4 linked regions of the Homo sapiens genome follow. The protein of the gene in region 2 interacts with the protein of the main gene of each other region in a pairwise test. Each region holds a gene or a part of one and is shown on either strand. Other genes may lie near its edges.

Region 1 (4,644 bases), on a different chromosome or scaffold from region 2:
TCTACTCAGAACTCAGCCAATATATCTGGAAAGGTAGTTCCTGGAAGGTCTAATTGCAACTTAATGATGCAAAACTTAAAATACTTGTATTATCAAGTGAGAACCTTATGATCCAGCTATCTTGCAGAGAACCTCCCATAAAAATGCATCTGAATTTTAGCCAATCACAGAAATCGTAGGTAAGTAGTCAAATCAAATAAAGGCCTCTGTTTTCTCTGACACACCAACAACCAGCGACACATTTTTCTGTCTCTCAGAGTCACCTTGAGATTTGAATTATTCGAATGCTAAGAATCAAAGCCACGCTGAGAGATCTCACACAGCACATGAAGCCAGAGAGATTTTAATAGGTTGGTGTATCAGGTGTTTCTCTTCATGTGAGTGCTTAGCCCAGGTGTATTCACCCACTGAACTAAGAACACTGATAAGCCTGCAGAAGTGGTGCTGAAGGAAAGCTAAGCACCATGGAGGACTAAGTGAGGCAAGTAGAAGACATGGACAATGGACATTCTTTTTTTTTTTTTTTTTTTTTTTGAGATGGAGTCTTGCTCTGTCGCCCAGGCTGGAGTGCAGTGGCACCATCTAGGCTCACTGCAAGCTCCGCCTCCCAGGTTCACACCATTCTCCTGCCTCAGCCTCAGAGTAGCTGGGACTACAGGCGCCCGCCACCACGCCTGGCTAATTTTTTGTATTTTTAGTAGAGACGGGGTTTCACCATGTTAGCCAGGATGGTCTCGATCTCCTGACCTCGTGATCCGCCCGCCTTGGCCTCCCAAAGTGCTGGGATTACAGGTATGAGTCACAGCGCCCGGCGAAGACATGGAAATTCTTAGAACCACTCTGGTCACTTACTCAGTTACATTGGGGAGAACATAAAGATCAGTTATTACTAATTATTCAAATGATCGTAAATGAGTCAGAAAATACTCACATGGGATCACATACTCATGTCCCTTAAGCACATGTCACTCCATAGATAGATCTGCGTTTGCTGCGCATAACCACCACCCATACTGAAAGTTCTGTTGGATCCTAATCTCCGCATTTCTGCTGTCATGGTCCCTGTGCCGACGTCTCTCTGTGTGTGTGTGTCTGTGTGTGCATGTGCACACTCCTATCCTGTGTGTGTCTGCATCTGTATAGCTGTGTAGATTTAATTGCAGAGAAAGTACAGGTCATGGCTGGCTGCGGTGGCTCACGCCTGTAATCCTAGTACTTTGGGAGGCCAAGGCGGGTGGATCACGAGGTCAGAAGATCGAGACCATCCTGGCTAACACAGTGAAACCCCGTCTCTACTAAAAATACAAAAAATAATTAGCCAGGCGTGGTGGCATGTGCCTGTGGTTCCAGCTACTCGGGAGGCTGAGGCAGGAGAATGGCGTGAACCTGGGAGGCGGAGCTTGCAGTGAGCCGAGATCGCGCCACTGCACTCCAGCCTGGGTGACAGAGTGAGATTCCATCTCAAAAAAAAAAAAAAAAAAAAAAAAAAAATACAGGTCACATGTCACATGGCCTGCAGGCCAAGGTGCCATGAAGCCCTGGGCATTTTGATATTAAATTTCCTACAACAGGGGCATCTGAGGTCAGAACAAAAGTAACTTGGCTCCAAGACAAGCGCATTAGGTACTAATGCTGAGCTTTTTTTGATTAAAGTAGTTGACTCAACAGGATAATTGATTACAATCTGAGACTTTATTATCTGATACCCCAAATCCCCCACATAAAAGGGGAGAAAAATGCTGAGCGCTATAAGCTGTCAAGGTGAGAGTCTCCTTGGCTAGACTGTCCTGGACAGCATGGCCTCCAGTGTCCCTCCTGTGGGTAATGAGGGACAGAACTATCTGCCCCCAGACAGCCCGCATGCACCACAACTTTTTTACACCCTTCTGGACACCCACTACTTTAAGAGCCAGAGGTCTAGGGTGAGGGCACCTTACACTGACCAAAATGGCAGTAAATACCCCCATGGAGTCTTCACCTACTTTCTCTCGAATGCCTGGATCTCCAGCCTAGACCAAAGGCATCATGTTCCTCTCCTTAATATATATAATATATACAATAGAAAAAATATATAATAACATTATATAAATATATAACATATTATATGTAAATATATATTATATAATATATAATAACATATAAATATATAATAGAAAAATAGAAAAAAATTACCATAATATATGACTCTTTCTCAAAGTAGTTTAAACATATCACCAAAACGGACTGGAAGAAAAGAATGGTAAGGAAAGGCTGCACATAGCTGGGTCAACCATTTCGTAAGGTGATAATGGAGAATGAACTTTTGGGAAGTTACACAGGTTGCACTGATGGGGAGAAAGAAGAAGATGATACTGAGTCATGCACAGCAGCAGGGCCTCGGCCAGAACGACACCCTGAATCTAAGGTGATGGGGGTGTGTGTTGTGAGTCAGGCTGGGGGCGTCATGACATCATCACAGAAATAGACCTAAAAAGTCCATTCAATCCAACCCCATTCATTTCAATTCACTGCGTACTCACAGGACACAGGCAGCCTCCTGCCAGTTCTCATGTGCCTGCAGGAGGGTTAGAGAAGGCCTTCCTTCCTCTGAACAGCAGCCCTGGATCTTGTGCAGAGACTGGCAAGCAGGGCACAGGCTGATTTCAACCCAGTTTCTGCCCTCGGCTGGGACCCCTCGTGCAGGAAACAGTGGCCTTGCTTGGACACTTTCTTCGTTTTTGAGACAGGCTCTTGCTCTGTCACCTAGACTGGAGGGCAGTAGCATGATCACAGCTCACCGCAGCCTTGAACTCCGGGGCTCAGTTGATCCTCCCACTTCAGCTTCCTGAATAGCTGGGATCACAGGTGTGCGCTACCACACCTGGTTAATTTTTAAATTTTTTGTAGAGATGGGGTCTCACTATCTCAAATGGGGTCTCAAATGCCTGGACTCAAGCGATCCTTTTGCCTCGGCCTCCCAAAATCCTGGGATTACAGGCCGGAGCCAACACTTTCTCTGTGTCGGCACTACTGAGAATACAGATAGTACAGTGACCAGCTAGGATGGACAGCAGCCTAGAGAGGAAGCCAGGCATTAAAGAGGCCTCAGTGTGATGAGTGGTACCAGAGGGGAAGTACAGGATGCTATGGGAGTGCAAACGATGGGATTTCACTTAGTCTAAGGGTCAAAAGACAAGACCATTGAAACACCGGCAAACTAGTTAGACAAGTCAAAGCTTAAGATGTGGAGTTCCTCCACACAATCCCAGCCACTGTGGCTGTCCCCAGAGAGACAAGCCGGCATGGTCAAGGTGACCTTACTGTCCCATCCAAGCTTGACTCTTTACCAGCCTTGAGGTCTCACATATAAAGGCTTCCACCAAGGCCTGCAGCATCAGTTTGCTTCTTGTTGAACCAAGAAATAGATGCCTAGATCTCATATTTCCAAGTCAAGAGGCAGGTCTCTCATAAGCACAAGGATCACAAGATGGGTAGATACATGGCTCAGTCACCTGGCCAGAGGGGCCCCCAAGGCTTCTGGATGAGTGCCATCTGATGCATCTGGCCTGCTGTAGGCTCTAAAGCTCGGGCCCACTCTTGCAAGGTGCATGGTGCGCTCATGCTAGCCAGATGGAAGCACCGCAGTACAAACTCCTCCCCCAGCTTTAGGGGCATGGCTCGGGACATTTGGCCACTTGCAGAGTTTACTCACCTGCCTCTGTTCCTCCACAGCTCCGGCTCCTGTATGAATGCAATCCCGTGGCCTACATCATTGAGCAGGCAGGAGGCTTGGCGACCACGGGGACCCAGCCTGTACTGGACGTGAAGCCCGAGGCAATTCACCAGCGAGTCCCCCTCATTCTGGGGTCACCAGAGGATGTGCAGGAATATCTCACCTGTGTGCAGAAAAATCAGGCAGGCAGCTAGCGAGTTTGACCCCACATGCCCTCTTCTGTTTGTCTTGCACCTTGTCTAAGGACCCTAAATGAACGATAAACAGAGATGGTAGCTATGAGTATACAAAAGGTAAATCCACTTAATCACATACAGAAGAGCAACAACAAACTGCTTACGACAGGTTTGGAAGCCACAGGCGATTCTATGGTCAATGTGAAGGACTAGAAATAAAAACCCACATGTGGAAAGTGCGACTTTGGCTTGTCTTCTGTCAGAAACAGTGGCAAATATGGTTATAATTCCGTCTGTCAACCCACATAATTGGCGGCTGCATGCTTGTGGGCAAAGAGTACATAGATTAGTTAAGAATTTGTCAGCTGGGTGCGGTGGCTCATGCCTGTAATCCCAGCACTTTGGGAGGCCGAGGCCAGCGGATCACGGGGTCAGGAGATCGAGACCATCCTGGCTAACACGGTGAAACCCCATCTCTACTAAAAATACAAAAATTAGCCGGGCGTGGTGGCGGGCGCCTGTAGTCCCAGCTACTCGGGAGGCTGAGGCAGGAGAATGGCGTGAACCCGGGAGGCAGAGCTTGCAGTGAGCCGAGATCGCGCCATTGCACTCCAGCTTGGGTGACAGAGTGAGATTCCATCTAAAAAAATAAAAAATAAAAATTGTCTTGATTGGCTTGAAATTTGAACCTAGTGTCTTATCCTGTAGTGATTACCTCCCTCAAACACATGTAAATTTCCAACTTAATATCTTAGA
Region 2 (6,056 bases):
TGTTGAGTACTCTTATTTTTTTTTCAGATTTTCTTATTTTTTAAATTTATATTGTACTAAGCTACATATAACACAATTTGCCATTTTAACTATTTTAAGTGTATAATTCCATGACATTAACTATATTCACAATGTTAGACAACCATCGCCTGATCATCAAAGTTTTTTGATCACCCTGAGTATGCTACATGCGATTGTTTTTTGTTTTAATGAGTTAAAATAAAAATCCTGAGCAGACAGGTGTGTGTGCTCATATTTTTATTTTACCTAAGCCGGAACCCTTGGTCTTACTTCTCGACTGTTTTACCGGCTGCTACTTTTGTTCATTATTACTTCTTTTTTTCACTCTAATCCTGTGATAGGTTAATGTTTATATTACTTGTCATCTCTTGCCTGCAGTGTTCTAAATTGCCTCCCCACTCTGTTCTCCATTGCCAGTCACCGTTCTCTCACCTCCCCACTCCATCTCTCCATGCTTGCTAATCTTCCTGCAACTGAGGCTCGATCCCATCACTCTTTAAGATTTTAAGTGGCCCCTCATTACTAACAATCCAAGCCACTATGAGCAGCATTGTTTCTTAGAATGGTATTTTTACTTTTATTTTTATTTTGAGACATGGTCTCACTCTGTTACCCAGGCTGGAGTGTAGTAGTACAATTACGGCTCACTGCAGTCTTGAAATCTTGGGCTCAAGAAATCCTCCTGTCTCAGACTCCCGAGTAGCTGGGACTACAGGCAAGTGCCACCACACTTGGGTAATTATTTATTATTATTATTATTATTTTTGTAGAGAAGGAGTCCCACTATGTTGCCCAGGCTGTCCTTGAACTCCTGGGCTCAAGCAATTCTCCCACCTCAGCCTCCCAAAGTGCTGGGATTTCAGCTGTGAGCCACAGCACCCAGCCCTGAGAATGGTTTTTTTAAACTTTCTTGTGTCTGTGCCTTGCACAGTGCCTGGCACATAATAGGTGCTAAAAAAAAATTGGGGTGAATGATTCTTGGTTTGGGATCCTGGAGTAAACATTCATAAAACCCATTTCATCCTTGTACAAGTACGGGAATACTAGTCGCTATAACAGATCAACTCCCTAACATGATAGTTTCCTTCTTGTCCATGGCACACTCCAATGCAAGTGTTCTTGTTGGACTCATTTTTTCTAAGCAATAGTTAGGAGCTCAGATTCTTTCAATCTTTGGTGCTATATCTTTAACATGGGGTTTCCAAGATTACCTTGGAAGACATTTCAATTTTGGCCAGCCAGAAAAGGAAAAGAACACAGAGGATCACCCCTGGAAGATTTTTGTTAAGTCCAACCAAAAACTGATGTACATTGTGTCTGCCCACATTTTAATAGCCAGAATTAAGCCACATGGCCACACTGAACTATGTGAGGGAGGCTGGGAAATGTAGTTCAGCTATGTGCCCAGAAAGAAGAGGAAGTGGATTTTGTTAAGTGCAACAGTCTATGCCAGAGTCCTTTGACACTAATTCAGACCTATTCAGATAAGTTCTTAGTGCAGTTCTTTCTCGATATGGACTGAATTGTGTCCTCCCCAAATTCATATATGTTGAGGCCTAACCCCAATGTGATGGTATTTGGAGTTACCTTGAGGGGCACGTATTTAGGATTAGATGAGGTCACTAGGGCAGAGCCCTTACAATGGGATGAATGCCCTTATAAGAAGAGAATGCTGGAGAACTGGCCAGCATTTCCCCATGCGCACGCATGCGTGCACACACACTCACACTCACACACAAAGAGGTCATCTGAGCACACAGCAAAGTGGTGGCCACCTACAAGAGAAGAGGCCTCAGCATGACACCTACTTTGTCTGCACCTTGATCTTGGACTTTAAGCCTCCAGAACTGTGAAAAATTTGTTTCTGTTATTTAAGCCACCCATTCTATGGTATTTTCTTTTCCTTAAAAAAATTTTTCCCCTAACCCACTGTGCCTTATAATATTTTTTATTTTTTTATTTTTTTTCATATGATATTTTGTTGTGGAAGCCTAAGCAGGCTAATATACTCCTCCCTGACTAAAATTCTGCAATGACAAGTAAGATGAATCCAAATCAACATTTTTTCCCTCTAGACTTCTCTCAGCTGGCGCCACCAGAGTTTATGCCATCTTGACTCATGGAATCTTCTCCGGTCCTGCTATTTCTCGCATCAACAACGCATGCTTTGAGGCAGTAGTAGTCACCAATACCATACCTCAGGAGGACAAGATGAAGCATTGCTCCAAAATACAGGTGAGGATGAGATTTGTGCAAAACAAGACTTTTCTAAGTGTTTAGGAGGTGGTTACTTACGTTGAATTAGGTCTCTGGATTCTGAAGATATCTTTCTTTGGTCTGAAGGATTTAGTCTTGTCATCAGAATTTGTGATCCAAAAGTTAACAATCACCTGTTTCTTTTCCTTTTTTTTTTTCTTTTCAAACTGCCAAGCCTTGGGAAAATCACCTGTTTAAAAGTTTAAATTGCTACACCTCAGAATCTCTGGAAGATGGAGCCTAAGATTCTACATTTTAACAGGTTCTCCCAGTGATTCTGATGCAAATTAAAGTTTTCAAGTCCATACTTTACAGTATGTGTTTGTCTGTTAACTATCGGCCCCTGTAGATATAATGTGAAACCTTTAAACTGATTGTACACTTCTACCAACTTTAGTGTTTCTCAGTGTGCTCTGGACCTAAGGTTCTTATTAAAATGTAGATTCCTTTGCTCCATCTAAGACCTATAAAACCAGAGGTCCTGGAACCAGTATTTTAAAGTAATTCCCCAAGTAATTGTTAGAAACTAAAGTTTGAGTGCTCTTGCACTAAAAGAACAAGGCCTTGCTTAATTAAAAATGTTCACATTAATCTATGAGCTTTTTGAAATTAATATGTGTAATTGGAGGATTATCATCTTTTTTTTTTTTTTTTTTGAGATAGGATCTTGCTCTGTTGCCCCAGCCGGAGTGCGCAATCAAAGCTCACTGCAGCCTCAACTTTGAAGGCTCAGGCAATCATCCTGTCTCAGCCTCCCAAGTGGCTGGCGTGCACCACCATGCCCAGCTAATTTTTTTGATATTATGTGTAGAGACGGGGTCTCCCTATGTTGCCCAGGCTGGTCTCAAACTCCTAGCCTCAAGCTATCCTCCTGTGTCAGCCTCCCAAAGTGCTGAGATTACAGGTGATGTCATTCTTAAGGATTTTTTTTCAACTTAGTCTTTTTTTTTTCCTTCATAAGGTTTTTTTGTTTGTTTGTTTTTTGTTTTTGAGATGGAGTTTTGCTCTTGTTGCCTAGGCTGGAGTGCAATGGCACGATCTCAGCTCACCGCAACCTCAGCCTCCCAGGTTCAAGTGAGTCTCCTGCCTCAGCCTCCCAAGTAGCTGGGATTACAGGCATGTGCCACCACGCCTGACTAATTTTTTATTTTTAGTAGAGATGGGGTTTCTCCATGTTGCTCAGGCTGGTCTTGAACTCCTGACCTCAGGTGATCCGTCCACCTCGGCCTCCCAAACTGCTGGGATTACAGGCATGAGCCACCACGCCCAGCCTATTCAGAAGGATTTTTAAATGCGAACCTACCACCATTTTTTTTTAGACAGGGTCTCACTCTGTTGCCTAAGCTGGAGTGCAGTGGCCTGATCTTGACTCACTGCAGCCTCAAACTCCCAGGCTCAAGCGATCCTCCTGCCTTAGCCTCACAAGTAGCTGGGACTACAGGCATACACCACAACCACGCCTGGCTAATTTTTGTTTTATTGTAGAGACAGAGTTTCACCATATTGCCCAGGCTGGACTCAAACTCCTGGGCTCAAGTGATCCTCCCACCTTGGCCTCCCAAAGTGCTGGGATTACAGGTGTGAGCCACAGTGCCCAGCCATTTTGATGAACCAAAGTCAGCGTTTTTTCTCAGTTAGCATTTTGACTCTTTCCTAAGTGGCTGTTTTGTTTTGTTTTGTTGTTTTGAGACAGAGTCTCGCTCTGTCACCCAGGCTGGAGTGCAGTGGCACGATCTTGGCTCACCGCAACCTCCACCTCCCAGGTTCAAGCAATTCTCATGCCTCAGCCTCCCGAGTAGCTGGGATTACAGGCGTGTGCCACACCATGCTTGGTTAATTTTTGTATTTTTAGTAGAGACGGGGTTTCATCATGTTGGCCAGCCTGGTCTCCAACTCCTGGCCTCAAGTGATCTGCCCACCTTGGCCTCCCAAAGTGCAGGGATTAACAGGTGTGAGCCACCGTGCCCAGCCGTAAGTGGCTATCTTAAAAATGTTATGAAGAATAGCTGAGTGCAGCCTCATGACAGGGAAACAGCACAGTGTTGCAGTTTTAAGAGGAAGGGCACTTGCCTGGCTGCTCATCAGTGTCTGCAAATTGGCCAGTCATCTCTGACCATATGATAGTAACCTGATTTCCTTTCTTGCCTTTCTAGGTGATTGACATCTCTATGATCCTTGCAGAAGCCATCAGGAGAACTCACAATGGAGAATCCGTTTCTTACCTATTCAGCCATGTCCCTTTATAATAGAGTAACTTCTGAGGCTTTTTGAGAATAAAATCCACCCCACCCTTGTTTCCCCTTGGTATTTGATGACAAATTCAGCAGAAGACCCGGCTTGCTCCAGTGTAGCTTTCTACATCCCACATCAGGTATATTAGAGCTTATCCGAACTGGGGAAAGACGGATTGAGATTAACTGCTGGGACCTCCTACCTGCATTATCTCATTCTGGCTTCCTTGATAATTCTGTGGGCCTTGCAGCTTTAACTATAGCTCAGCTGCTGCAAGATTTCAGACTTTTGAGGATGTTGTGTGAGGGTGTTTGACTGTGACTGGGGAAGCTCAGACTACTTTGTATGTGAATGCTTCAGGGTTTTCTTTGTTGAGAACAACTAGCAACAAAGGCAACCCATGTGTGACCAGTTCTCCCCAAGGTCTATGCTAAATTATAGCAAGAGCCCTGGGCAACCCCAAACCTAGTCCTGGTAGCTGAGCACCCTGTAAGGCAGGAGCAGGCAGCTCAGCTTGAGCAGACATTGGGTGGGGGGTGGGGGGTGGTTGAGGGGGGAGGCAGCACAGTGCAGCAAATGTTTCTTGGGAGGAAGAAGCCTGATCCATCACCATCTGCTTGACTATGTAGCTTGGATTCTCCTTTGTACCTATCCCTTTCGATTTGGCTTTACCTTCATCTATCTTGATCCTTTCCTGGCCAAATATCCTCTTGGGCCCAAATGAACATTGTACCATAGTCTTCTGGAAAGCAAACATGCTTCCTGCTATGTAATTGCTAACATTCATATTAGATGATGTGCTGTAGCTTGATCTTCCTTAGCCTACTGCCACTGAGGCAGTAGGTTTTAGGTGGTATCGTAGTGCCTTTTGATTAATTTAAGTATTTAATTTTCATCTTCCTTCTTTGGATCTATTTGGCCTCTCAAATGAACTGAGATTCCTGTTAAAAAAGATTGATGTTATTGTCTCTTGTAGAGGAAACTAATAAAGTGTGTGTACCTGTGTGATTTGGGGTCTGTATCATACATAATCTGTACTGATCTCTCTGCTAAAGGTTTGGTTTAGATAGATGTCTTGCTGTCCATTGATAGCTCTTATTTGTTTCCAAACTACGTTAGCTTCATTGTTAAACCAAGAGAAGACATTGGCAGCAGTTTTATTCAACTGTAAGACTAAGATGTCTGGAGTTTACTGAGAATGTGATAAGAGTGTAATTCTGTGCAGTATACCTAAATTATAGCATGTATAATGTCTGGTGGATCTCTGGTTCTTACTCCTGAAGATCCAAATTAGGTATTTTCTTATGGGAGGAGAATTTCTGTGATTTATTCATTTTGAACTAATTTTGCCAAATGTGATAATTTCCTTCCATTCATCAGTAATTGACATACGTTTGGCATTTACTTTCTTTGTTTTTTTTGATTTTTTGGTTTTTTTTTGAGATGGAGTTTCGCTCTTGTTGCCCAGGCTGGAGTGCAATGGTGCAATCTTGGCTCACTGCAACCTCCGCCTCCCGGGTTCAAGCAATTCTCCTGCTCAGCCTCCT
Region 3 (7,039 bases), on a different chromosome or scaffold from region 2:
GGGAGGAGATAGAATTAAGCATGTGGAGGTGCATGGATGTAGAAGATCACTTTGATCTGTTATTTCTTTTTTCTTGAAGAGTTGTTTTGCCAGAAAAGCCAGTCAGTTTGAATAAATATGAAACCAGCCACTTGACCTCAGTGCTAATACTTCGTAGCCTCCAAAGCAAAGTGTCTGCTCCCTGGCCCCTGGCACCATTGATTCACCATGAGTCAATGACCCTTAAATAGAATTTCAGCAGGCTGGAGTTGGCTGCAACGAACTGGTCAATGTCACCCCTTCCTCTGGGTCCTGAAAAAGCTGTATCCACTGAAGCAAATGACTGCTATACAGGTTTGAGGGAGAAGGGGGAAGCAAAAAACAAATAAACAAAAGCAACCAAAAAAACTGTACTACTGAATTATAGGTTTTTCTATGCATTGACATCATACTGACTTCAACAAATTTGAGAGCTTGAAGTTTACTCAAACTTCCAGATCCCTGAGGTCACTGCTCAGTGGATTAAAAGAAATAAGTGAGAAGAAAGTCTCCTGATTCATTGTGTGTTTGCATGTGTGTGGGAGTGTGCACAAATGTGGACATTTAGACACATGCTTTAGGTTCAAACAGCTTTTTGGCAATGTGCCAGTTCTCACCCCTCCCACACCCACCTCATTTATCTCGTCTCTCATGGCGCAGTACTCCACACTACGGGACAGGGTCCGTCCATACTCCTCAGCTTTGGCACGCCACTTCATGCTGTCCTCCTCAAGGAGCTCCAGCTGCTGCTGTAGGTTCTTTGCAGAAACATTAGAGCAGTGCTAAAAGAGACAAATGGTGGTAACAGAGAGAAAGGACGAAACAGCAATAAGACGAGTAGGCTATTTACCTGAATTATGAAACTCATAAATGACACTTTTTAAAAAAAGAAATAGGTTCCTGATTTATTTTACCTTAAACATATTTGAACATAATTATTTCAGAAAGAAGCCAGTCACCCAACATTATGGAAAAGACATTTCCCAGCTCAAATCTCTAGTGTTGAAGATTCGCTCATCACACCCAACTCCTCAGAGACGCCATTCATTATAGGGTATAATTTTTACTTCAAAAGGCATAAAATATGCATTAGAAACATTTGATTTCTGCACTATAATTTTCCTGTCAACTTGAGCCTAACCTCAGGTTCATTATGCAAGTGCTCCAATCTCAGCTCAGCACAGTGGGGCTGCCAGGGCCAAGGCCAGAAGAGGATTGGAGAACAATTTACATTATTTGCACAAAGTGAGACTTCTTGCTTTCTTTTTCTTTTAAAAATAAATGTACTAATAAAATAAACTCTTTAAAAAGAAAGCTCTTTCCTGGCAAAAAACCAATTCCATTAACAACAACAGATAATTTGTATTTCTATATCTTTCAGTTTAAAAAATACATATTTTAGATTCACTGCATTTCATATAGTTTAGTGGATATCTTACATGTATTTTAAAATAAAATGGGCCATTATGATTTTATTAATGTTATACCTATTGTTAGAGTAAACATAATCTTTTCTCCCCTCAAGTTAGAAATCTGGAAAAGGATTTTTTTGTTTTGTTTTGTTGTTGTTGTTGTTTCTGTTTTTTTGTTTTGTTTTGTTTTTTTGAGATGGAGTCTTATTTACTCTGTCGCCCAGGCTGGAGTGCAATGGCTGGATCTCAACTCACTGCAACCTCCGCCTCCTGGGTTCAAGCGATTCTTCTGCCTCAGCCTCCCAAGTAATTGGGATTACAGGCACGTAATACCACGCCTGGCTAATTGTTGTATTTTTAGTAGAGACGGAGTTTTGCCATGTTGGCCAGGCTGGACTTGAACTTCTCGGCCTCCTAAAGTGCTGGGATTACAGGCATTAGCCAATGTGCCCAGGCTAAAGAAGGAATTTTTTTAAAGAATCAATGTCCAGTGTATTATTGATGAAAATTTGATCTGGGAATATTTCCTTCTCTTTTAGGCCTCTCTTTTGAAGTCCGACAGTGGCATCAAACAAATCCAACCAGCCCTGGCTAGAATCAGGAGGCTTGGACTCCTCCATTCTGGGCTTTTATGGGTAAGGTGGGAATTTCTGTTTGCCTCAAATTCTTCATCCATAAAATGATAGCTCTGGCCTGGATGAACTCTAAGATCTAGATGGTCTTCCAGATCTGCAATGCTAAAACAGCACTGGCCAACAAAATGTGAACCACACAAACAATTTAAAATTGTCTAGTAGTCATATCAAAAAATCAAATAAAAAGATAGAGCAAAATTAATTTTTATAATACAATAACCAACTATGTCCAAATATCACCATTTTAACATGTAAGTAATATAAAAAATACTAATGTGATTGCTTTTCATAATACCTCTTTGAAATCTGGTGTGTATTTCATACTTTGAGCTTCCTCATTTGTTGCTAAATTTCGATCAGAAATATTAGATCTGTATTTTAATTTTTTAAATTTACAGTTTCGAAAGTTGATTCCCATACCCAAATTGCTCCCAACATACTTAAAAGTTGTCCCATAACTATACTGAAGATCAATTTTTAAATTTATATTTAAATTAATGCAAGTTAAATAAAATTAAAACTTTAGTTTTTTAGTTGCATTAGGCACACATCAAAGGCAAAAAAGTGACTGCCACACTGGACTATACAGATCTACTATATAAATACTCTTTAAAAATTTTTTTTCATGAAAATAGAGGTATTCAACAAGACTTTTACATTCAGATTTTCTACTTAAAATTTTTTCTTTTGTCAGAGGGTAGAAATGAATCACAAATAACTACCCCAATGGTTTAGTTTATTTTTAAATTTAACATATACTAAGCAATCTGCCTGGTTTCTTTCATATGCTAGCCCAAGCCCCAGCTAGAACTGAGTCTAAATGATAGTGTTATTAGATGCTTACAGGCCGCTGCACTGATGAGATGATGTCGACTCCTAAGGAAAGGGCCAGTCTGTGGAGATGGTCTACACGGGCTTGCTTTTCCTGAGAGCACCGGAGGTGAATCTGCACATCATGGGCATCACCCAGTTCCTTCGGCTGCTCTACAAACTCCAGCTCTCTTGATTTGATGAGACGTCCCAGCTACAATTTAGGGCATTAACAATTAACCTGGGTTTTATATGAAGACAAATTTTTTTTTAAGCCTAATTTCTATAGCACATTTTGCTAGCTGGTCGAAATGCTGCCAAGCCCATCTTTAAACTGTTGGCATTAGCCAAATAAATGTTAGAATGCTGCAAATCCAATGGTGGTAAAATTGAACTGCTAACGTTGTCAGTTCCATTAAAGAAGGAAACAGTCTTTTTGGTCATGACCCAAAACCTTAGCAAGATCTAGGTCTGTGCTCTGAGTAAATTTAGAGGCTATTTTAAAGGGATATTAACGAATATTCCTCCATCTTATGTTAATAGAGACCATAACTATGAAGTTTTTGTAAAAATGCCACCAACAAATAGCACTCCATGATGTCAGGTACTTGAAGTGCAAAAAAAAAAAAAAAAAAAATCTAACTTGGTTTTCGCCCTCAAAGAGCCTAGAATTGAATTGGGGCGGGGGAGAGGGGGTGGGCGGGAAGCTATGCTTATCAAAAAGTAATTAAGAATCAAGATAGTAAAATGCAAGATATGTGGAATACACAATGAGCTGTAGGATTTTTGAAGAGAGAGAAATCATTCCAAGTGAGGTAGGATTGTTGGAAGGAGGTATAGGATTTAGATAAGAGGGAGGAGAAAGACAGACTTGTCAAATAATGGCAGCCTGAGAGTCAAGGGTTGGAGTTAGGGATGTGTGCATCATCTCTGAGGGACAAAGAGCTCAGTTTGGCTGGAACAAAAGGAAGAATAGGAACATAGTGAGAGAAAAGATAGGGGCCAGATTGTGTAAACTTCTGATACTAGAAGACACAATTTGGCCTTTATTTATTATATAATAATTCATTTTTAATTGCATAGTTTAAAACTCAGGATTTTTCAGACATCCCTTCTAAGCCTTACCTCTTCCTTGACTTGATGGAACTGGACCACCTTGTACAGGATATCCTCGTAATCCTGGATTCTCTCTTTCTGTTTTTGATGGAAGTGAATAAGGTCCTTCAGTTGTTGAGACTTTTCTTTTACAGGGGCTCCTCTGCCAGTTAACTCCTCTGATTCTTTCATAATGTACTGAACCTCATCATTCAATTGCTAAAACATTGAAAGCAATAAAAAAATCTTGCTATTAAAGAACTTTTTTACTTTACAACTGACAATATAAAGGTCTAAACAATGAATCACTCTTTCATTTGTTAACAAATACTTATTATGAATGCCCCCACCCTCCAAAATATTTGGGCATTGTGCTGGATGATAGAGATATGTTTTTCTATACTCACCTGAGAAATTTACAAAAAAAAATAGCATGAGCAATGCAACAAAGGTTTCAAAGCTAGGTGGAAAAACAAAGTCATACATTTCTATGGCATACCAAATATTCTATTCATCTGTTAAGTAAATGTATTTTAGATATTTTATGCAGCCCCATGATTATCTCTGATATTTAATACAGACTAGAATCAGGTGGTATGGTAAAAACACCATGAGAAGATGGGTGTAAAAATATATCAGGGGAATAACTTGTGCTCTGTGATAAAAGAATGATCAGAATGAACCACCAGCTGAACAGCATAGTAGATAGACTGCTTCAAAAGCGGTCATCCCATGATCCACAAATAGCCATCACATGTAGGGAGGGATAAACTGCCTTGCCTTTCACCCAGCATTGCTCAGATAATCCAGATTCTGGAATAGAATTTGCAAAAGGGGCATACTTTAAAGAGAATGCTACTATAGGCTGGGCATGGTGGCTCACGCCTGTAATCCCAGCACTTTGGGAGGCCAAGGAGGGTGGACCACCTGAAGGCAGGAGTTCAAGACCAGCCTGGCCAACATGGCAGAACCCTGTCTCTACCAAAAATACAAAAATTAGCTGGGCGTGGTGGCACACACCTGTAATCCCAGCTACCCCAGAGGCTGAGACACGAGAATCACTTGAACCTGGGAGGCGGAGGCTGCAGCAAGATAAAATTGTGCTACTGCACTCCAGCCTGGGCAACAGAGTAAGACTCTGTCTCAAAAAAAAAAAAAAAAAAAAAAAGACAGTGAGAGAAAGATAGAGAATGCTACTATAATTTCAAGTGTAGATCTTTTGTATGAAAGGTAAAAGTAATGGAAATGATTTAGACTAAGGAGATAATTTTCAGAAGAGTGACCTAAAAAGGGTCTTCAAGTTCAAGCATTTGGGCATTAAATATATGTGCATCACAGTGACAGGGCTAAAGAGGTGTGACAATGGTCCTGATTTAGAGGAACTTACACGTACATGCAAACGTGCACACAAACAAAATGCATATAAGCAGATAACGCAGGGTGTATTAAAGAGCCTAATATAGGCCAGTCACATTTGCTGAGAGTTTTATAAGAGTTTGCTGTGGATTACAATGGTGGGTGTGTTTCTGTGTAGCAGGTGCGGTGGTTATACTTACATCGGTTTTTGTCTTAAAGGAACCTACAATTAGATATTCCCTAAAGGAATCTTCAATATTCTGATTCTGGGATTCTTTGAAGCCCACATTTATGAAGCAGTGACAGCTAGAAACACAGGTATCTAAATTTTGCAGCAAAGCATAAGAATCCAGGCAGAAGTATAATGTGACTAGCAGGTGGCAATTTTTGGCGGTTGTGTCACATTTTGGAGAGGCAGGAGGTGGGGAAATAGGGACTGTGTTAAGCAGTCAGGGTCAGGAACATGACTCATGGTTTTATTGCTCATATCCTGAAAGGTGGAGTGGAGGGCACAGCAAAATTCCTGGGGTGATGGTACGTGCCTGGGGTGCTGGTGGGTGAGGACAGTGACATAACAGTGGTCACCTCAGGGACCCAGGGCAGCAGAGCCTCTGGGTCCGAGGTTGCCCATCCTTGTTCTGAGATGTCTCAATTTAAAACACCTCTGCACTCCCAAGGAAAAGAATTAGAGTGAAAATATAGGATAAATATATTACTAGTTTAATTAGCCATGTGAATTTTAAAAATCTAATATAAAAATCTATTTAGGACATTGTATAGCCCTAATGCTGGTATATCATCAAATTCAAAAGAATGCAGGAAAAAAGTAAGAAAAATGTCTCTACAGTGGATTTTTAGACAAGCAATACTTTTGTTTAAAAAAATAGAAATTCACCAGCCTGTTACAATTAATCAGGTAAACTGCAACCAAACAGTTTTAAGTATTTTTTCCATTCACCCAAATCCAGCAATATATTTCTTCACCTGGAACTGAGGCTTCATGTCATTCCATTTTTGTCGTAGATCTAAAATGAACTGGAGGCTCCCTCCGAGGTCAAGTGCAGACACAGGCATAAGTGCTTCCTGAAGAAGTTTTAAGTTGTGAGAAGTCTGAAATAAATATTGGACAGTTACACATGCATTTTCTTTGACATCTCCAGCAAATTTGATCATTCTAGGTATGACGCAGAGTGTGATCAAATTTTTCAAACCCCATGAAAACACTCAGGATGTGGCATGAGCTCAGGGTTCTAAACCACCAAGAAGTAAGGCCCTTGGTTTCTGCTGCCTTTTTTGGTTTTATTGTGGTAAAATACACATAACAAAAGTTACCATGTTTACCATTTTGGGGTGTACAGTTCAGAGGCATGATATTTAATACATTCACATCAATGTGCAATCAACATCACCACCAACCACCTCCAGAACTTGTTTATCATCCCAAACAGAAACTCTGTACCCATTTAACAGCTCCCCATTCCCTCCCTCTCTCTCCCAGTCCCTGGTAACCTACATTCTGCTTTCTGCCTCCATGAGTTTGACTACAGGGACCTCATTTATAAGTGGAATCACACGATATTTATCCTTTTGTGTTTGGCTTATTTCACTTAGCTAGTGTTTTCAAGGTTCGCTCATGTTAGCCTGTGTCGGAATTTCATTCCTTTTCACATCCCATTGTTCCTTGCCTCACCTTTTTAAGTTGCTCTTTGAATG
Region 4 (7,039 bases), on a different chromosome or scaffold from region 2:
GGTGTTACTTAGTGAAAATGAAATTTTACAATAGAGATATTGTAAAAATGGGTGTTTGAGGAGGATCGTCTTTGAAAAATTATCTACTGGGTGTTACTGAAAATGAAAATTTTACAATACGGATATTGTAAAAATGGAGTTTGAGGAGGAGCACCTTAGAAACTTTATACAAGATGGGGATCCTGGGAGCAAGGAAATTGGAAAAAAAAGAATTACAGTAACCTGGGCCTCAGATCTACATGAAAAGCTATAATGGGATGAGAGAAATGGGAGATCAAGCCTCAAGGAGAAAACTGATTAAAAACTGGACTGACAGCAAGTTTTTGGACATGGAGAATGGAGAGCAGAAAAAGATAACTCCAAGGCTGGGGTAAAAATATAAAGGTGGTGACACTTTTCAGGGCAAAGGAATTACGCAATGAGGCCTGTTTAAAAAGAAAACGGGGGCTGGGGATATATGGTGATGAATCCTGTTTTCAAATATCAAGTTGTACAGGTACCTGTGGAAAATTCCAAAAGTCACAAACTGACCCACAGGGTGGGAAAAATGAAGTCATTCGAATACAAATAGTAGGTATAAACAATCAAAATGGATAAATAGGAGTATAGAAAATGAAGTGAATAAAAGACAGGGAGATTATTCTCAGTGGAGAAGAGGAGAAAGGGGAGTGGGTGGAAAGATCAACTAAAAAAAGAAAGACAGATATTAGAGAAAAAGGATCCCACAAGCCAAAGGAGGGAGAATTCAACAATATAAAATATAAATTAGATCAAAAAAGACAAGAAATAATAATAAAAAAAGGCCTTATTATTTGTCCACTGGTGAGTCTAAGAACATTTCACTGGAATGCTAAGTATGAAAGCCAGTAAAAAGAAGTTTTAAGAACAGATTAATGAAAAAGGGGGGTTGAAAAATCAAAGATATGTTTGAAAAACCATGAACAATAGAGGAGAAACAGAATGGTAGTTGGAAATGGGCAATGAGGATGAAAGCATTTCACATTTTATGCTGTAGATGAACTTACTATTGTCATCCTAACTGACCATCTGCCTGGCCTGGTACATGGATATTTCATTTCCCTCCACAATTCTACTTTCCCTTTGGCAGTTTGGAGAAAAATATATTTGAATTTATTATTGCTTTATCCTCCCAATTACTCTGTTAAATATGTTTTGTTTGCACAATTTAGCTTTGTAGTACTACAAAGCATCAACACTTAAAAATGATATAATTGTAACCCCAAAAAGCATTTTCCACCAATTTTCCAGTAATTGTAATGTATTTGCACTCTACTGCACATTCTTTTCCCCAGTACCTCTCATGACAAGCGCTACATATTTTTAAAAAGCTGGTTAGAATTACCATGTTCATTATACACACCTTAGCACAGTAGTCAGAACAGGCTCTAGAATCAAACTGTGTGGGTCAGAATCAGTTTTATCACATACTGGCTGGGTGATATTGGTCAGCTCACTCAACTAAGCCTCCGTTTCCTCATTTATAAAATGGGGGATAAAATAATACCTATTGATATGGTTTGGCTGTGTCCCATCCAAATCTCATCTTGAATTGTAGCTCCCACAATTCCCACGTGTCGTGGGTGGGACCAAGTGGGAGGTAATTGAATCACGGGGGCAGAACTTTCCTGTGCTGTTCTTGTGATAGTGAATAAGTCTCACAAGATCGGACGGTTTTATAAAGAGTTCCCCTGCACAAGTTCTCTCTTTGCCTGCTGCCATCCATGTATAAGACATGATTTGCTCCTCCTTGCCTTCCACCATGATTGTGAGGCGTCCCCAGCCATGTGGAACTGAGTCCATTAAACCTCTTTCCTTTATAAATTACCCAGTGTCAGGTATGTCTTTAATAGCAGCATGAGAACAGACTAATACATTTATCATGAGCCTGAGAAAGGCATAACAGGGTTGGGCACATAGTAAGTGCTCAATAAACGTCGGCTATTATTATTTGGAGACTCAGAACCAAGAGTAAAGTTAACTGCTCTGTTTGGGAATCAACCACCATATTCTAGCACTGCACCTTGCTCCATGGAGAAAATCTCTGAAACCTAACATGCCTCTCCCAGGGCTATGTTGGATGGCATTAGAGTTATGAAAGAACCACCTTATCATGTCAGTTCCTAAAATGAGAAGCTTAGGATGGGAGGAGAAAGTACTGATGAATAGTTCATTTCAGATGAACATAAAGATAGAATCTATAGGATAAAGGAGCTTAATGAATGCCATTCACAGTTAAGAGCTCAAAATGTCATACAGCCTAGTCAATAATATTCTATGCTAAGAGTGTGAACTTGAGACAAAGAATGATTTCTAGTGATGTCCTCAAAGAATCCACAGCCTTTTTCTATTGTCTTATACCATTTGGCTAATTCTGTATATGTGCTGTATCAGCTTTGATAATTCTTTCAAGACACAGTCTTTTCTCACACCCAATATAACACTAATTTTTCTAGTCATATTATTTTCTCCAAATTTATGCCACATGCTTAGTAATTCTGAGATTTAAGTAATCTGGCTACATATTACTCTTAATACTGACACATAAAGAGACTTTAGCTAGTACATCTGTATACATTTCAATGTGTTGCTCTGGTCTATGGCCATACCACCCTGAATGCACCCAATTTTGTTAATATGTTGCATTGCTAAAAGGACTTTTTATTGGAATAGAAGAGAAGCGTTCTTCTAAAGTGTATGGCAGGTGTGTGTGTGTGTGTACATACACATGTGTACATACACATATATTTTCCCTCTGACAATGCACCCATCATATGTAATATTTGCATACAAGGTAATACTGGCCCCAGGAAGAATCAGTATCTTACAGAGGGTAAGGCACAACTGAAACACAGAGCAAAGATCTAGATACAACCAGATTTACTTGTTTCTGGTTTCTTAAAATTTCAAGTACAAAGAAACTAGGAATGGTAACTTATAAATAAAAGAAACAAGAGAAGGGAGGATAAGAAAATAAAGGATAATCGAAAGGACTGTTGGAAACCAACATGACAAGTGATGGGTGTCTTCATTCACCAATGGCTCAATGAAATTGATGTAGATAATTCTGATGTTGTTAGTGGTCAAAGTGGGCCATAGAGAGGCAGAGAAGGAATGTTATAGGGAAAGAATTTATGATCCAAAAGGTGGTCCTCTATGACGTAAGACTTTGATTGCTTTTTTTGGCCCATCAATCATAAAATGATTATTATTTCTTTTCAGGATAGTCACAGGGTGAAATTATGAAGCTTTCATCAGAACCTATATAATTTTTTTTCTGAATAGGCTCAATGTAATCAATTTTAAGTTTAAAGGTTAATTTTGGAAAGCCCAAAATTTCTCAATTCCAACTCTGGTGAATAAGTGGCTACTCAAATGGTAAAACTAAAGTGTAAGAGTAATAGAGGGTTTTCTCATATGGTTTATTAAATGGGAATTCTAAGAGTGTTCCAAATATTTGGAAGAATATAGTAGTATGGAATAATAGTACTTGGGAATAACAAGTGACAACCCACATTGGATGCGTAAGTTCTGGCATGTTACTTTAAACCAGTCTCATTACTTTATATAGTATTCCTTGGTATAACAAAAGCCTCAAAGATGAAATATAGTGCCTGGTGATACTGAGTTTAAGAGTACATCTTTGTTGGTAGATTATAGACATGGATTACAGATGGAGTGCACCAGAGTTCAAAAGAATGAAAACCTGTGAGGTAAGGTATTAGATTACCACTGTGGATATTAAAGTCATATAAACTAATGGCAAGAAACAGATGGAGAATAACGAGTGAGGTGCTGAGGCCATCTAAAGAGATGGGTGCAAGGTAATGATAGGAGTGACAGACCATCTAGTCAGGGAGTTTGCACAGGCTGTTAAGAACCTGAGAAAGCAGTATTGTAATGGGCCAAAAAAGATGAGTATACATTCTTTGTAAGGTTTTTATCTTCCTAAAGCATCTTCGTCTCCTTCTCCTACCTGATGCCATAACTAGGATAGTGCCAACTATCTGTACCACAGTGTACAGTGGGGAGGTGGAAGGAGAGTCAGAAGTCACCAAAATGTATAACTATCCAAGCTCAAGAGCAGCTGGGCTGAGTCTCCACTCACCTCTTTCTCTGTATTACTCCCATAACCATTACTAATGTGTCCACTTTCTTTACTGACACAGGTGCTGGGACTGGGGGTGGTGAAGGATATGTACAGATGCTCAATGACTCAATGGAGTCAGTGAAGGTGATACATGAAGAAAAATGCTGGAGTGCTGTTAAAAATATAGCATTCTGAGTTTGTATGGGAATACAAATTTCCACTGACTAGAAGGAATATTAGAATAAAAAAATGCACACTTAAGCATAAATACTTTAAGTGTCTGTAAAATTTTCCTAGAAAGCTACATACAAATATAAGTTTCACACAGAAGCTACTTCTGACTCTACAGCAGCTTCTTAGATCAGATTAGGAATACAAGGGCACCTTCAAGGGAATAAATGGGAGAGGGGGATCACAGGAGATGGGAAGAAGCACAGGAACTAGGAGTAGCCAGCCTCTCTCAAACCTATAGCTACTCACCCAAAAGACAAAGTTAAGCTCTTCAAGCCATGACAAGCAACTTGCTCTAATGCTATTTTAAATTTCTAAAGGATACATTAGGTCATCAGGAGCTCCATCAGATACTTTCAAAGACAGTCAAGCTAATCAACCTTCACCAAGGCACTGGGCCCAAATTACTAAAGAGCTATCCTAACTTTGCCACCACTATAGATTCTGACACTAAAGTTGTGATGACCTTTCTGCCTTTTAGTACACTGAAAGACCTCTCACCAGTGTGTGGTTTCCCTAATGCTGAATAATGCTCAAACTCTAACTGATGTTGTTCCTAAACGCTTATGGATTCAGATTTTTCACCACTGTGGATTCTCTGATGTCGAATGAGACTTGACCTCTGAATAAAGGCTTTCCCACACTCATTACATTGGTAGGGCTTCTCCCCTGTGTGAATTCTCAGGTGTTGAATGAGACCAGTGTTCCCATTGAAAGCTTTCCCACATTCTTTACATTTATAGGGTCTTTCTCCAGTGTGGATTCTCTGATGTTCAATAAGGCCTGACTTCTGACTGAAGGCCCTCCCACACTCATTGCATTTGTAGGGTTTCTCCCCAGTGTGGCTCCTCTGATGACCAATAAGATGTGAGCTCCGCCTGAAGGTTTTCCCACACTCATCACACTCATAGGGCTTCTCCCCAGTGTGGATTCTCTGATGTCCAATGAGGTGTGAGCTATGACTGAAAGCTTTCCCACACTCATTACATTCATAGGGTCTCTCTCCACTGTGGATTCTCTGGTGCAGAATAAGGCCCGCACTCTGACTGAAAGCCTTCCCACACTGATTGCACTGATATGGCTTCTCCCCAGTGTGGATTCTCTGGTGCAGAATCAGGCCTGTGTTCTGACTGAAGGCTTTGCCACACTCCTTACAGTGATAGCGTTTTACTTTGTTGTGGATATCCTGATGTGAAAGAAGGGCTGACCTGTAACTGAAGGCTTTACCACACACATTACACTGATAGGGTTTCTCCCCAGTGTGGATTCTCCAGTGGCGAACAAGGCCTGAGCTCTGAGCAAAGCTTTTCCCACATTCATCACATTTATGTCGTCTCTCTTGTGTGGGATTTCCCCGCTGCCTCTCTAATCTGCCCAGAAGGTCTCGGGCTTCTTCATGCTCAAGACCCCTGATAACATCCCCGTTGCATTTGGCAGCTGTCTCTCCATGTGGCTGGATTCCAGTAGATATTACCTGTTTTGAAGCTAATTCCCTGTTCTCACTCCTGGTCTCACCACCTGAAATAAAAATGTAATAAACAAACATCAAGCCAATGTCACAACCTATTCTTTATGCTAGGAGAAAGGAACTGAAGATAGGGGAAAAGGAAAGTACACATGAACAGCTATAAGTAAACACAAAACTTCTGTCTCCAAAATAGCTTCTTAATAGTGACCTTGCTTAATATGAGCTAGTCAACTGGGAAAGAGGTACCATTAAAAAAAGAGAGTTAATTGGAAGGGGAACTAAAGTCAGGAAAGGATGAACTGAAGTGAGGTGAAAGTTGGGGAGAGGAATATGGAACTACTAAAAGAACTAATGAGCAGGACAGAAATGGGAAAATGCCCAGTCATCAAAAGGGAGGAGATACAATTAATTTATGTGAGAAAAATATATGTAGGAATCCCATGACAACTTGGAGAAGAAATATATGAACTCAGAGAGCACCTCTGAGATGTCAATTTCCAACTGGCAAAAACGCCAGTACCCTGGTACAAAATGTAAGGAAGTTCTGGACAGGAGAACAAAAGTTTCACGTAAGATTTCAAGAAATCTCAACATCATATCCCTCTGCTGGATCCTGAGTTAAACTTAACTATGTCTTTCAGAAAGGCTGTAGCTACTATACACATAAACAACAAACAAACAAAAAATCTAAAATGACAATAATAACCACACCTCTCCTTACCCAGGGAGAACATGTTTCTGAAATTTTCTGGCCTGTTATCTCTACACAGATCCTTCTGTGATGGATCAAGAAGCCACTCCTCTCGAATAAGGGACACAGCCATGTCTTCAATCTTCTCCAAAGTCTGAAACAAAACAAGATCCCCATTTGGGGACTGGGACTGTTCCACAGCTCAAACCTATAGAGCTTGAGAGATCCACCAGTATTGGGAGAGAATTACAACTTGGGAATGTACTATGTAAAGGGATCTGAATAGCTAGGAAGAAGAGGAAAATGCATGAGATTTACTGGGGGAAATTCAGGATCAATCTGTCCCTAGGCAAAAGAATTTTTGGGACAACTTTTTGGGTAGGTACTGCTACAAACTAGACAGTCAAGATATAGGGCAGATGCCACAAACACTGACAAGCACAGCTATGGCGTTTCAGTGAGAAGGAGCACAACTCACCTGGAACCCTGCTGTGAGAAGTGTAGCTGTCATTTCCTGGTCTCCAGAACTTCCTTTCTGGGA

The links.
Region 1: the proteins of PRPS1 (region 2) and FBP2 interact in binary tests that used the Homo sapiens proteins (3 or more experiments, as listed by UniProt).
Region 3: the proteins of PRPS1 (region 2) and CCDC141 interact in binary tests that used the Homo sapiens proteins (3 or more experiments, as listed by UniProt).
Region 4: the proteins of PRPS1 (region 2) and ZKSCAN8 interact in binary tests that used the Homo sapiens proteins (3 or more experiments, as listed by UniProt).

What each region holds. Positions count from the first base shown.
Region 1 is NC_000009.12:94,558,200-94,562,843, reverse strand, and holds the end of FBP2 (fructose-1,6-bisphosphatase isozyme 2), read left to right. Parts: intron 1-2,519; exon of another isoform or gene 2,520-2,747; intron 2,748-3,691; exon of another isoform or gene 3,692-3,711; coding exon 3,712-3,906; 3' UTR 3,907-4,124; downstream 4,125-4,644.
Region 2 is NC_000023.11:107,645,510-107,651,565, forward strand, and holds the end of PRPS1 (ribose-phosphate pyrophosphokinase 1), read left to right. Parts: intron 1-2,096; coding exon 2,097-2,256; intron 2,257-4,430; coding exon 4,431-4,523; 3' UTR 4,524-5,517; downstream 5,518-6,056. UniProt on the Homo sapiens protein: Catalyzes the synthesis of phosphoribosylpyrophosphate (PRPP) that is essential for nucleotide synthesis.
Region 3 is NC_000002.12:178,865,117-178,872,155, forward strand, and holds part of CCDC141 (coiled-coil domain-containing protein 141), read right to left. Parts: coding exon 7,017-7,039; intron 6,437-7,016; coding exon 6,311-6,436; intron 4,190-6,310; coding exon 4,001-4,189; intron 3,090-4,000; coding exon 2,910-3,089; intron 801-2,909; coding exon 651-800; intron 1-650. UniProt on the Homo sapiens protein: Plays a critical role in cortical radial and GnRH neurons migration during brain development. Regulates cortical radial migration by negatively controlling the activity of histone deacetylase 6 (HDAC6) and promotes centrosome maturation.
Region 4 is NC_000006.12:28,151,874-28,158,912, reverse strand, and holds part of ZKSCAN8 (zinc finger protein with KRAB and SCAN domains 8), read right to left. Parts: coding exon 6,977-7,039; intron 6,653-6,976; coding exon 6,529-6,652; intron 5,858-6,528; coding exon 4,896-5,857; 3' UTR 1-4,895. UniProt on the Homo sapiens protein: May be involved in transcriptional regulation.